Regions from separate parts of the Homo sapiens genome. Here region 1 is linked to region 2. Evidence: fine-mapped QTL for protein levels in blood plasma. A gene starts in region 2. The other region holds a variant in brackets. All regions are shown on one strand. Distances are from middle to middle.

Region 1 (5,368 bases), 2.0 Mb before region 2:
TTGGGCAGGGCGCGGTGGCTCATACCTGTAATCCTAGCACTTTGGGAGACTGAGGCGGGTGGATCACCTGAGGTCAGGAGGTCGAGTCCAGCTTGGCCAACATGGCAAAACCCTGTCTCTACTAAAAATACAAAAAAATTAGCTGGGTGTTGTGGCAGGCGCCTGTAGTCCCAGCTACTTGGAAGGCCGAGGCAGGAGAATCGCTTGAACTTGGGAGGCAAGAGGTTGCAGTGAGCCGAGATGGCACCACTGCACTCCAACCTGAGCAACGGAGCAAGACTCCATCTCAAAAAAAAAAAAAAAAAAAAGGACCTTGGTGGGTCTTCCTGGGCCCCTAGGCCTGACTCCTGGGAGTTTTTTTTTTCTTTCTTTTTTGAGACAGAGTTTTGCTCTTTTTGCCCAGGCTGGAGTGCAATGGCACAATCTCGGCTCACTGCAACCTCCGCCTCCCAGGTACAAGCAATTCTCCTGTCTTAGCCTCCCAAGTAGCTCGGATTACAGGCATGCACCACCACACCTGGCTAATTTTTTTGTGTGTTTAGTAGAGAGGGGGTTTCACCACATTAGGCTGGTCACGATCTCCTGACCCCAGGTGATCCACCCGCCTCGGCCTCCCAAAGTGCTGGGATTTCAGGCGTGTGCCACTGTGCCTGGCCCAACTCCTGGGAGTTATACATGAAGGAGTACTTGAGTTTTTAATTTTTTTAATTTTAAATTTTTTTTTGTTTGTTCGAGACTGAGTCTTGCTCTGTCGCCCAGGCTGGAGTGCAGTGGCGCAATCTCGGCTCACTGTAAGCTCCACATCCCAGGTTCACACCATTCTCCTGCCTCAGCCTTCCAACTAGCTGGGACTATAGGCACCCGCCACCACGCCCGGCTAATTTTTTTTTTTTTTGTATTTTTAGTAGAGACGGGGTTTCGCCGTGTTAGCCAGGATGGTCTCGATCTCCTGACCTCGTGATCCGCCCCCTTTGGCCCCCCAAAGTGCTGGGATTACAGGCATAAGCCACTGTGCCCAGCCCAAGTACTTGAGTTTTTGAGATGGGGTCTTTCTTTGTCACCCAGGCTGGAATGCAGTGGTGCAATCACGACTCACTGTAACCTTGAACTCCTGGGCTCAAGTGATTCTTCTGCCTCAGCCCCCCAAGTAGCTGGGACTACAGGCACACACCATCACTCTGGGCTAATTTTTAAATTTTTTTTAGCAATGGTCGGTGTGTGTGTGTCGGGGCGGCGGGGGGTGCTCTCATTATCTTGCCCAGGCTGGTCTTGAACTCCTGGAGCCAAGCAATTCTCTTGCCTTGGCCTCCCACAGTGCTAGGATTACAGGTGTAAGCCACCACACCTGACCAGTTTTTCGTATTTCTTTTATAAGGTAGTATCAATTACTGGAGAGATTTGTAATACCAACCCCAGGAGGCTGTTGAGAGGTCTGAATGCTTAAATATATGTGACATGTCATAGGCAGCACCTGGTGCTGCCCTAAAGACAAGAACAGCCTTGCTTTCTATCACCTGATTGAGAGAAGAGAAGGTTCCAACTTTTGTTGTGCTTCATTTTTACAGCATGCTAATATGACTATAAAGATTTCAGGTATTAGTTTCTCTGTTAAAGTGGAATAAGTTAATGTGTTTTCCTTTAATAAACTTTAAGAAGTTGGATTTGGGTATGAAGAGTCACCTGAGACAGAATTATAGTTCAGAATTTACAAAGTAGTTAATGAAAACAGAGGCTTCTCAGGAGGCAGGGAAATTCTGAGTGGAAATATTGGGTGAAAAGGTATCCACAATCTGAGCTGTGCAGGATGCCAGCCCCTGGGAGGGGCTATAGGCAGTACAGGAGCCACAGAGGCTGGCCTGCCCTCAGATCCAGGAGCTCAAGGGAGGAAGCCCAGGGCGCCATGCGGTTGTATTCTGTCACCACTTCAGGCCACAGCAGGCTGAGTGAGGGTCTAGGATGTAGATGGAGGTGCTTGTAGAGTGAAACTCTATTTCTGGGATCCTTATGACTCTCTGAATGTCCCTAGATTCTATAAATAGCTGCAAGTGTCCTGAAATGTGGATGGGGTTGTTTTGGAGCTGCATTTGCCCATTGATAGTCCTTGTGTCCCACAGACACATGCCCTCTTTGAGCGCCTGGTCTTTTAGCATGTGTGCCAGCTCACGGATGTATCAGGGCCATGCATGACCCCCGTGGGGTCACTTCTGGTACTTTGGACTATGGGCTGTGTTCCTGTACAGTCACATCAGCACTCAGAAAAACAGTCTTCCTGACTGAACAAAGTTAAGACACTCAGGACCCCA[C/T]TCCCACAATCCTGTCAGCCCTGCTGTGTTCACCTCCCTGGAATGGTGTTTGGGGGTGATATGGAAAGGAGTGTTACCAGGGCCTTGGGGTGGAAGTCCAGGAGAGTCTAGCTCTCAAAGATGCCTCCCTGGGATGGAGATGGGGGTGGGGAGTGGGAGAATAGGCCAGGCAGCCATTGAGTGTCCACATGACACCCTGTGCACACACAGAGATCCTATTCAGAGACAGTCTCCAGTCCCAAGAGATGAGGTTTGCTGAGCCTAGGGTTGGGCATTATGGGGAAAATGGAACATGTTGGTCTCATAGGGAGAATTTAGTTGCTGAGAGGACTCCTCAGGGATAGCCATGTGAACTGGGACTGTGAAGATGGCCGTGTTGGAAAGCAAGTCTCTTGACTGTTTGACAGTCAGCTTGGCTGTGTGCCTGAGGTAGATGCATGAGCCCTGCCTGGGGTGAATGCAGGGAGAAATCGCGCTGTTGAAACTGGTGCCCTGCCTGGAGTGAACTCTTTACAGTGGATGTCCCTCTAGCCCCATTTGGCATCTGTTCATAAGCTCCTTGTTGGATGGGACTGACCTGAAGGCTCAGTTGTTGGAGGCTTGGGGTCAAGAGTGCACCGAAGCTTAGGACAGTAGGTGAAGTTTTTCAGTAACATTTGCTAAGTTGTGGAACTCTGTTGAAATGCTAAATGTAACTTTGTGCCCCATTGCCTCCAAACCGTGCTGGTATTGCTAATCCCAGAAAGAAAAGGAGGTAGCCAGGCACAGTGGCTCACACCTGTAATTCCAGCACTTTGGGAGGCCAAGGCAGGAGGATCACTTGAGCCCAGGAGTTTGAGACCAACCTGGGCAACATGGCGAAACTCTGTCTCTACAAAAATGCAAAAATTAGCCCGGCTTGCCTGTAGTCCCAGCTACTCAGGAGGTTGAGGTGGGAAGGTCACTTGAGCCCAGGAGATGGAGGTTGCAGTGAGCTGAGATTGCACCACTGCACTCCAGCCTGGGCAACAGAGCAAGACCCTGTTTCAAAAAAAAAAAAAAAAAAAAAAGCCGGGCACAGTGGCTCATGCTGTAACCCTAGCACTCTGGGAGGCCGAAGTGGGTGGATCACTTGAGGTCAGGAGTTCGAGACCATCTTAGCTAACATAGTGAAACTCCGTCTCTACTAAAAATACAAAAATTAGCTGGGTGTGGTGGCAGGTTCCTGTAATCCCAGCTACTCGGGAGCTGAGGCAGGAGAATCATTTGAACCCAGGAGGTGGAGGTTGCACCGAGATCGCTTCACTGCACTCCAGCCTGGGGACAGAGTGAGACCGTGTCTCAAAACAAACACAAACAAACAAAAAGACGAAAGAAAAGAAAAGAAAGGGAGATGCCAGAGGTGGCACAGACAGCTGTGGGTGATAGATGGTAGGAGCCTCAGACTGCTCTTTATACTCAGGGTTGTTCATTCTGTGGGGGCCAGAGTGAAGACCCATACCTCTTGACACTGGGGGACTATTTCCCTGTACAGGGTCCACAGGACCTGTCATGCCTGCCTGGGTATCATCCCTGTCTGGTCCTTTCTCAGCGTCTTACAGCACGTTGCATGCAGTTGCCTTGGCTATCCCTTAGCCTTTAGAGGTGGCCACAGCCATCCTCCTTGGCCTTGAAGCTGTCCTGCTTGAATCTTGGCTTAGAGTGTTCTCAGGCCCTTGGTAATCCAGGGGAAGTGAGACTGGAGGGGAACTACTGGGGGAGATTAAAGTCCAGATCCTGGGTTAGAGACTTCCCCCACAAAAACCCCAGCATGTTAACTAGGGAGAATTGAGGCTCAGAGAGGCCTGGAAACTTGTCCATAGTCACTGTGCCTGGCAGGCGCATGGATGGAAGCCATGTTTTACTATATAAAACTTCTCTTACAGGTGAGGGATTCTGAGCGTGTACCACATGGGGTGGGCCTTGTGGCCAGACTCCCATTGCTCTTGCCACTGAGACCCTTGCTCTGGGAAATTTGACATTAAAATATACCTAGAACTGAGTTTTTGTGCGAAATCTGATTCATTTGTGGCTAGGCTTCTACCCAGTCCAAGTACTTATTTTTTTTCTTACAAAACTGTCCTCTTTGCTGGGATTGGCCTCTGTCCTCGGTGGTTAGTCACAGGTGCTTGCTTCTGCTTTTTGTTTTCAATGCAGCTATCCCCAGCTTTTTGCAGCTGGGATGTTATCTGGCGTATTCACCACAGGAATCATGACTCCTGGAGAACGGATCAAGTGCTTATTACAGGTAAGGTTGTGATTGGAGGGGAAATAGCTTTTTCCTTTCAGTTTATAATTTCGTGTGCATGTTTATGTCCTTTCACCCTTAATAAAGGCTTCAGGACTGGGTGCAGTGGCTCACACCTGTAATCCTAGCACTTTGGGAGACCAAGGTGTGAGGATTGCCTGAGCCCATGAGTTAAAGACCAGCCTGGGGGCCAGGTGCAGTGGTTTACGCCTGTAATCCCAGCACTTTGGGAGCCGAGGAGGATGGATCACTTGAGGTCAGGAGTTTGAGACCAGCCTGGCCAACATGGTGAAACCCCGTCTCTACTAAAAATACAAAAATTAGCCAGGTATAGTGGTGGGCACCTGTAATCCCAGCTACTTGGGAGGCTGAGGCAGGAGAATCACTTGAACCCGGGAGACAGGTTGCAGTGAGCTGTGTCACGCCACTGCACTGCAGCCTGGGCATGAGAGCAAGACTCTGTCTCAAAAAAACAAAACCAAAACAAAACAAAACCAAAAACCAGCCTGGGCAACATAGTGGGATCCCATCTCTACAAATTTTTTTTTTTTTTTTTTTGAGATGGGGTCTTGCTGTGTTTCGCAGGCTGGAGTGCAGTGGCACGATCTTGGCTAACTGCAACCTCCACCTCCCGGATTCAAGTGATTCTCCTGCCTCAGCCTCCTGAGTAGACGAGATTGCAGGCGCCTGCCACCATGCCAGGCTAATTTTTATATTTTTAGTAGAGACAGGGCTTTGCCATGTTGGTCAGGCTGGTCTTGAACTCCTGACCTCCAGTGATCCACCTGCCTCGGCCTCT
Region 2 (5,368 bases):
GAGGGTGGGCATCCTGGCCCATGGGCTCCAGGGGCTCTCAAGACTCAGCCTGTGGATATTGAGCTCCTCGGAGCCTGCAAACCTGCCCTCCAACCCTCAGTGCAAATCTGTCAAGCCCAAGTCCTAAGGCCTAGGATCCAGCTGCAGCCACCCTTCTGCTGGCTCAAGCCCATCCAGCTTCCAGACTGCACTCCCAGGTGCATTCCCCATGTATTTCTTCTGCTGCTACTTTCTTCTTCTTTCTTCTCCTTCTCCTTCTTCTTCTTCTTCAAGACAAAGTCTCACTTTGTCACCCAGGCTGGAGTCCAGTGGCATGATCTCTGCTCACTGCAACCTCCGCTTCCCAGGCTCAAGTGATTCTCCCAAGTAGCTGGGACTACAGGTGTGTACCACCAACCTGGCTAATTTTTGCATTTCTTGGTAGAGACGGGGTTTCACCATGTTGACCAGGCTGGTCACGAACCCCTGACCTCAAGTGATCCACCTGCCTCAGCCTCCCAAAGTGCTGGGATTACAGGTATGAACCACCAGCCTTGGCCCTCCCCATGCATTTCTATGGCTGCCTCCCTTCTCTGTGCCCACTGCCCTCATTTCTTTTTCTGGTGTTCAAGGGCTGTGCTATTTGAGACAGTTTCCTCCAAAAATGACTCTCCCTAACAGGAACTGTCTGCTAGACTCCTGGTCTTCTTCACACATCCACTCTCCTGCCTTTGTCCTTGCTGCTTCCTCTGCCAGGATCATACTCTTCTGCCTGGTGTAAAGGACACTCCCCTCCCTCCTTGTGTGCCCACATCCTCCGTTACTGGGGAGGGAGGTTGTGATTTCAGGGCTGCCTCCTATGGTATGTAGCCTCCTTGGGACGGAGGCCCAGGTGCCAGAATGGGCACCTAAAGAACACTTGTGGTTCTTCAGTGTTATATTTTAATGGTCTCAGCTTTATTATGCCTCTGTTTCTTTTCTTTTTTGAGACAGGGCTGTTGGCCAGGCTGGAGTGCAGTGGTGCGATCTCGGCTGACTGCAACCTCCACCTCCCGGGTTCAAGCAATTCTCTGGCCTCAGCCTCCTGAGTAGCTGGCATTATAGTTGTGCACCACCACGCCTGGCTAATTTTTGCATTTGTAGTGGAGATGGGGTTTCTCCATGTTGGCCAGGCTGGTTTCAAACTCCTGGCCTCAAGTGATCCTGTCTCGGCCTCCCAAAGTGTTGAGATTACAAGCGTGAGCCACCACACGCAGCATTTTTTTTTTCCCCAGACAGGGTCTTGCTGTGTCACCCAGGCTGGAGTGCAGTGGCACGGTCATGGCTCACAGCAGCCTTGACCTCCTGGGCTCAAGCAATCCTCTCACCTCAGCCTCTCATGTAGCTGGCACCACAGGCATGAGCTACCACACCTGGGTAATTAAAAAATTTTTTTTTTGTAGAGACGAGGTCTCACTTTGTTGCCTAGACTGGTCTCCAACTCTTGGGCTCAAGCAGTCCTCCTGCCTCGGCCTCCCAAAGTGCTGGGATTACAGGCATGAACCACCGCACCTGGCCTATGCCTCTGTTTCTAAGTGTCTCTAAGTTTTATGGTTCTGTGACCACTGATCTTCCACCCTGCTTTCCCCCTTGGTGATGAGAAAAGAACATTAATGGAGGGATTGGAAGGACTGAGAGATAAAACTAGAGGCTGAGGGGAGGAGTTCTTTTCAGATCTGACACCAGGGAAAACTTGAGATTTGGAAACATACTACTTGTACTTGGGAGGATGAGGGTGGGCTGTGGAGAGGGCTGCAGAGAGGAATCTGATGGGTGCTGGGTCCCTTAAGGGCATTCCTCCTGCCATAACTCATGTGCCTCACCCCAGAGTCCCCTGCTGGACATTCCACAGCTGTGGGTGGGGCCACAGATCATCTCTCTCACCCTCGGGCCTCTGGTTAAAGTGCTACCATGAGGGTGGGGGTGTCACACATTAACTGGTAGCACCCAAGCACCTGGCAGAGTCAGCTTGCCCTTTTTGACAAGCACGCCCCAGGGGCTCAGAGTCAGTTTCTGGTTAGTGTCAGGTCAGTGTTAGTTTCAATGGGGTTTGAAAAGGCCTGGCTGGGGGTGGGGAGTAGGAGTGAGTCCCTGTCTCTAATCCCCAGGCTGGGGCCTAGGAGGAGGAGCCAGGGTGGTCACTGGATCTCAGAACTGCAGTAGGGGCCAGACTCTGGCCCCACCCCTGCTGGTGTGGCAGCCCCAGGCTGACAGGCCTCTGCTGCAGCCATCCCACCGTGAGTAGGGCTCTGGCCAAGGTACACAGACCCTGGGGCCAGGGTGGGCATCAGACACCAACAAGCAAGGCAAGAGGCTCAGCTGTCTGAGCAATGCAGCCTGGCCTTCCTCCCTCAGAAAACCCCTTGGCCAGACCAGGGGTTCTCTGGGACTAATGGCTCACATCTATTTCTGAGTCCTTATATTTCCCCAGTGCTTCATCCCAACACTAGCCCCAAAGTCAGGCTGCATCCAAGCTTAGCCCTGATCCCAGACTGAGCTCTATCTCCATCATGAGCCCCAGCCTCAGGCTGAGTTCTTATCCCAGTCTGATTTCTAGCCCCTGGCTGAACTCTGACCCCAGGTTGTGCCTCCACCCAGCCCTCAACCCCAGACCTCTCTCGGCTTCTAGGCCCCTCTGGAAACTTTTTGAGGCAAGAGCCCAGTAGGGGAGGGGATGGCTAGGCCATAAGTGAAGCGAGGTGCCACTTTTACAGCCATTTCGGCTGCTCATAAACACCCCCTGACACCCAGCTGAGTCGCTGGAGGCTCCCATGGCAGCTGGCTGGGTAGCCCCCTTCCCTTGCAGCAGAAGCATGGCTGCCTGGCTTTCTTGCCTCTCAGGAAGGTGAAGGGAGGGGCGATGGGGGCACCTGGGGCCAGCAGGCTCTGTCCCAACCAGGGAGCACTCCTAAGGCTCCCAAGGAGCTAGAGGTATGGGCTTTCTGTCCCTGCTGGCCTCATGGTTACAAGCCCCCTGCTGTCATAACACCAGGTCCACAGATGTGTCTCCATGCGGGCATGTCTTGTCTGCCCCATAGCACGGCCCAGGTATTTAGACACTCACCCCCAGGGAAACCACAGACTTGGGCTTCCCAGCTGTGCTCAGGCCCCTAGGCTCCCCTGGCCCCCACTCACCTGCAGCCCATGGGCCTTCCAAGTCGGGCCTAAAGCTGCAGAGCAGACTCAAGTTGGCCACGGGGAGGCCATGGATAGTCCCTGAGCAGCTTCTGTGGCTCAGGCCTAAGCAAGGATAGTGCTGCTGGGGACAAGAAAAGACCTGAGTCAGAGCTTCCACTTGAAAAGAAAATTAATTATTTTTTACCAAGCCCTACACTGGCCCAGGACTTTGTCCCAGGCTCCTAGTCAGGAGTAGGAGGCAACAGAGGCAGATCCAAGTGTGCCGGTGTTCAGATGCCCAGGGCTGGGCCCTCCCCTCAGCACCCATGGGTCTGCCTGCCAGGTAACTGGGCCCACTCAGGCTGCCAGACACGTGTGTGTGCCTCAATAGTCCTCTCCTTGCCCTGCCATGCCTCTCTCTTAGTCTCTGTGTCCCTGTCTAACCCTCTGGTCCTTTCCACATCTCAGGAATATCAGGCTGCCACGAGGTATGAACACAGCCCCTACTAGTGACTTCACTCAAGTTTAAGGCACCCAGAGAAATCAGAGGGGGGCTGGAGGTGGTTCTTGCCTGTGTCACAGGCAGGAAAACTGAGGCCCAAGAAAGCCTGATCTGCCAGCACTGGGTACCCAGTGGCTCCTAGACGGAAGAGATGGAGGGGGCCGTCATTCCACTCCAGCCCGTGTCCTGACCCCTACAGCCCCACAGCCACCTCATATCTGACTCCTTGCCCACTGGAATGTGGGCTCCTGGTGAGGAGTCAGCCAGGAAGCCCTCCCTATCTGCCTCCCAGGCCCTTCCAGGCCCAGGGTCTGCTTAAGCTGTCACAGGTCTCAAAGGCAGGGGGCTGTGGACAGGATGACTTCTCTCTGTGGGTCTGTAGAACGAGCTGTGTTCAGAACCAGGGCTGGTTGCTCAGGATGAAGATGTGGGCAGACAGGGAGGCAGAGACCCTGCAAGATCCCAGAAACCTCACCCCCAGGCCCTGTGACCCGGCTGGAGGCTGCCCTTCTGCCTGAGCCCAGTCTGAGCTGGTTTGTGTCTGGAAGTCCTAGGCTCAGCCTGATGAGGTATAATGATTCACGTGGCAGCTGCCACTCAGCACATTCCAGCTGTAGCCCCCAGTGCCCTGCATGTGAGGCAGCTGGCCCCAACCACCCCCAGCCATTGGGCACATTCCTAGGGCCCCCCTCCCTGGGTCTTCCAGGCTCCTGGGGAGGGTACCACTCATTAGAGTTTCCAAAGTACTTTTTGTTTCACAAGTTAGTCAGGGAGGCAGGCTCGGTGATACCTGGCCTCCAGGTGGAGGAAACGGGACCAAAGAGCAGAATGGACTGGCCAGGGGACATAGTGAAACTATGACAAACAGCACTTATGGGACTCCTGCCCCAGCTACTCTGAAGTGCACTGCTCCAAGGGGTATCCTGGGACACGTAGGCTATTCTGTGACCAGGCCAGCGGAGGTCAGTGGGCAGTTGTGCCCAAAGGAGGGAGAGTTCCCCTGTGCTCTGTCAAGCCTCCCTGTTGCCCTGGCTCTTGACTGCCAGAGCCTCTACCTCCCCTGAGTCCACATGCACTGCCCTACCCTGCCCACAGGCCCCATCCTCACTGGCCAGGGAAGCAGGAGGCTGGGGCCTTTTCTGCTTTGACCTGTGGATCCCTGAGCCAGACGCCTTCCTGCTCATGGCCTCAGTTTCCTGATCTGTTGTTAACAGTTGGGCAGTTTCAGGCTCAAAGGGGATCTGTAAAGTGCCCAGGCACTTGGGTCTTGGATGCAAGCAGACCTGGGAGTCTGAAAACCTGAAGGCCTTTCTCTCCTCGAGCCTTGGGCCTGCCAGTTTGCGTTCCTCCTGTGGGCCCCAGCCCAGGGCTCTGGGGGGCAAGTCTGGCCCTCAGCTCCGGGGACAGGAAGTTGTATTTTGGTCCTGGGTTCTGGGGAAGAGGTAGGGGGAGAATGGCAGCTCAGACCCAGCCATGTTTACTCGGGCCCGGCCCCCTCCGAGCTCAACAGGCTCCCATTCATTGGGAGACCCATAAACCCTTTGGGGCTCCCTGAGGTTCAGAACGCCTGGATGCCAAGGCTGGATGCCGCCCCCAGACCTGCTGGGAGCTGTGGGCAGCAGGTGGGGCATGAGTGAGGCATAAGTGGGATGGTGGGTGGGAGCCTGAGACTCGCCTGAGTTTCCAGGTATTTGCAGCGTCGTAACAGTTCTTGCCCCATGCACATTGTGG

Alleles and levels. Alleles are on the strand shown, and positions count from the first base shown. The strength of an association depends on the size of the effect and on how common the allele is.
As copies of C replace T in region 1, the plasma level of the protein whose gene starts at base 3,276 in region 2 goes up (moderate association).

What was found. A credible set is the group of variants that fine-mapping cannot tell apart. PIP is the posterior inclusion probability: the model's chance that the variant is causal. Protein levels are from antibody-based Olink assays in UK Biobank. Linkage for the fine-mapping came from a reference panel and not from the study's own genotypes, which makes the PIPs less certain.
Region 1: its variant is the best candidate, but not a certain one, in a credible set for the plasma level of the PTH1R protein (UK Biobank, PIP 0.86).

The regions. Positions count from the first base shown.
Region 1 is chr3:48,878,559-48,883,926 of GRCh38, reverse strand. It overlaps SLC25A20 (solute carrier family 25 member 20), which reads left to right. Exons shown (of 9, transcript NM_000387.6): 4 at 4,479-4,569. Among named protein-coding and RNA genes, the nearest start is that of SLC25A20, 18 kb to the left of the region's middle. The variant C/T (reference allele first, on the strand shown) is at 2,304.
Region 2 is chr3:46,875,629-46,880,996 of GRCh38, reverse strand. PTH1R (parathyroid hormone 1 receptor) reads right to left here and starts at 3,276. Exons shown (of 16, transcript NM_000316.3): 1 at 3,154-3,276. It also overlaps a transcript of MYL3 not described here.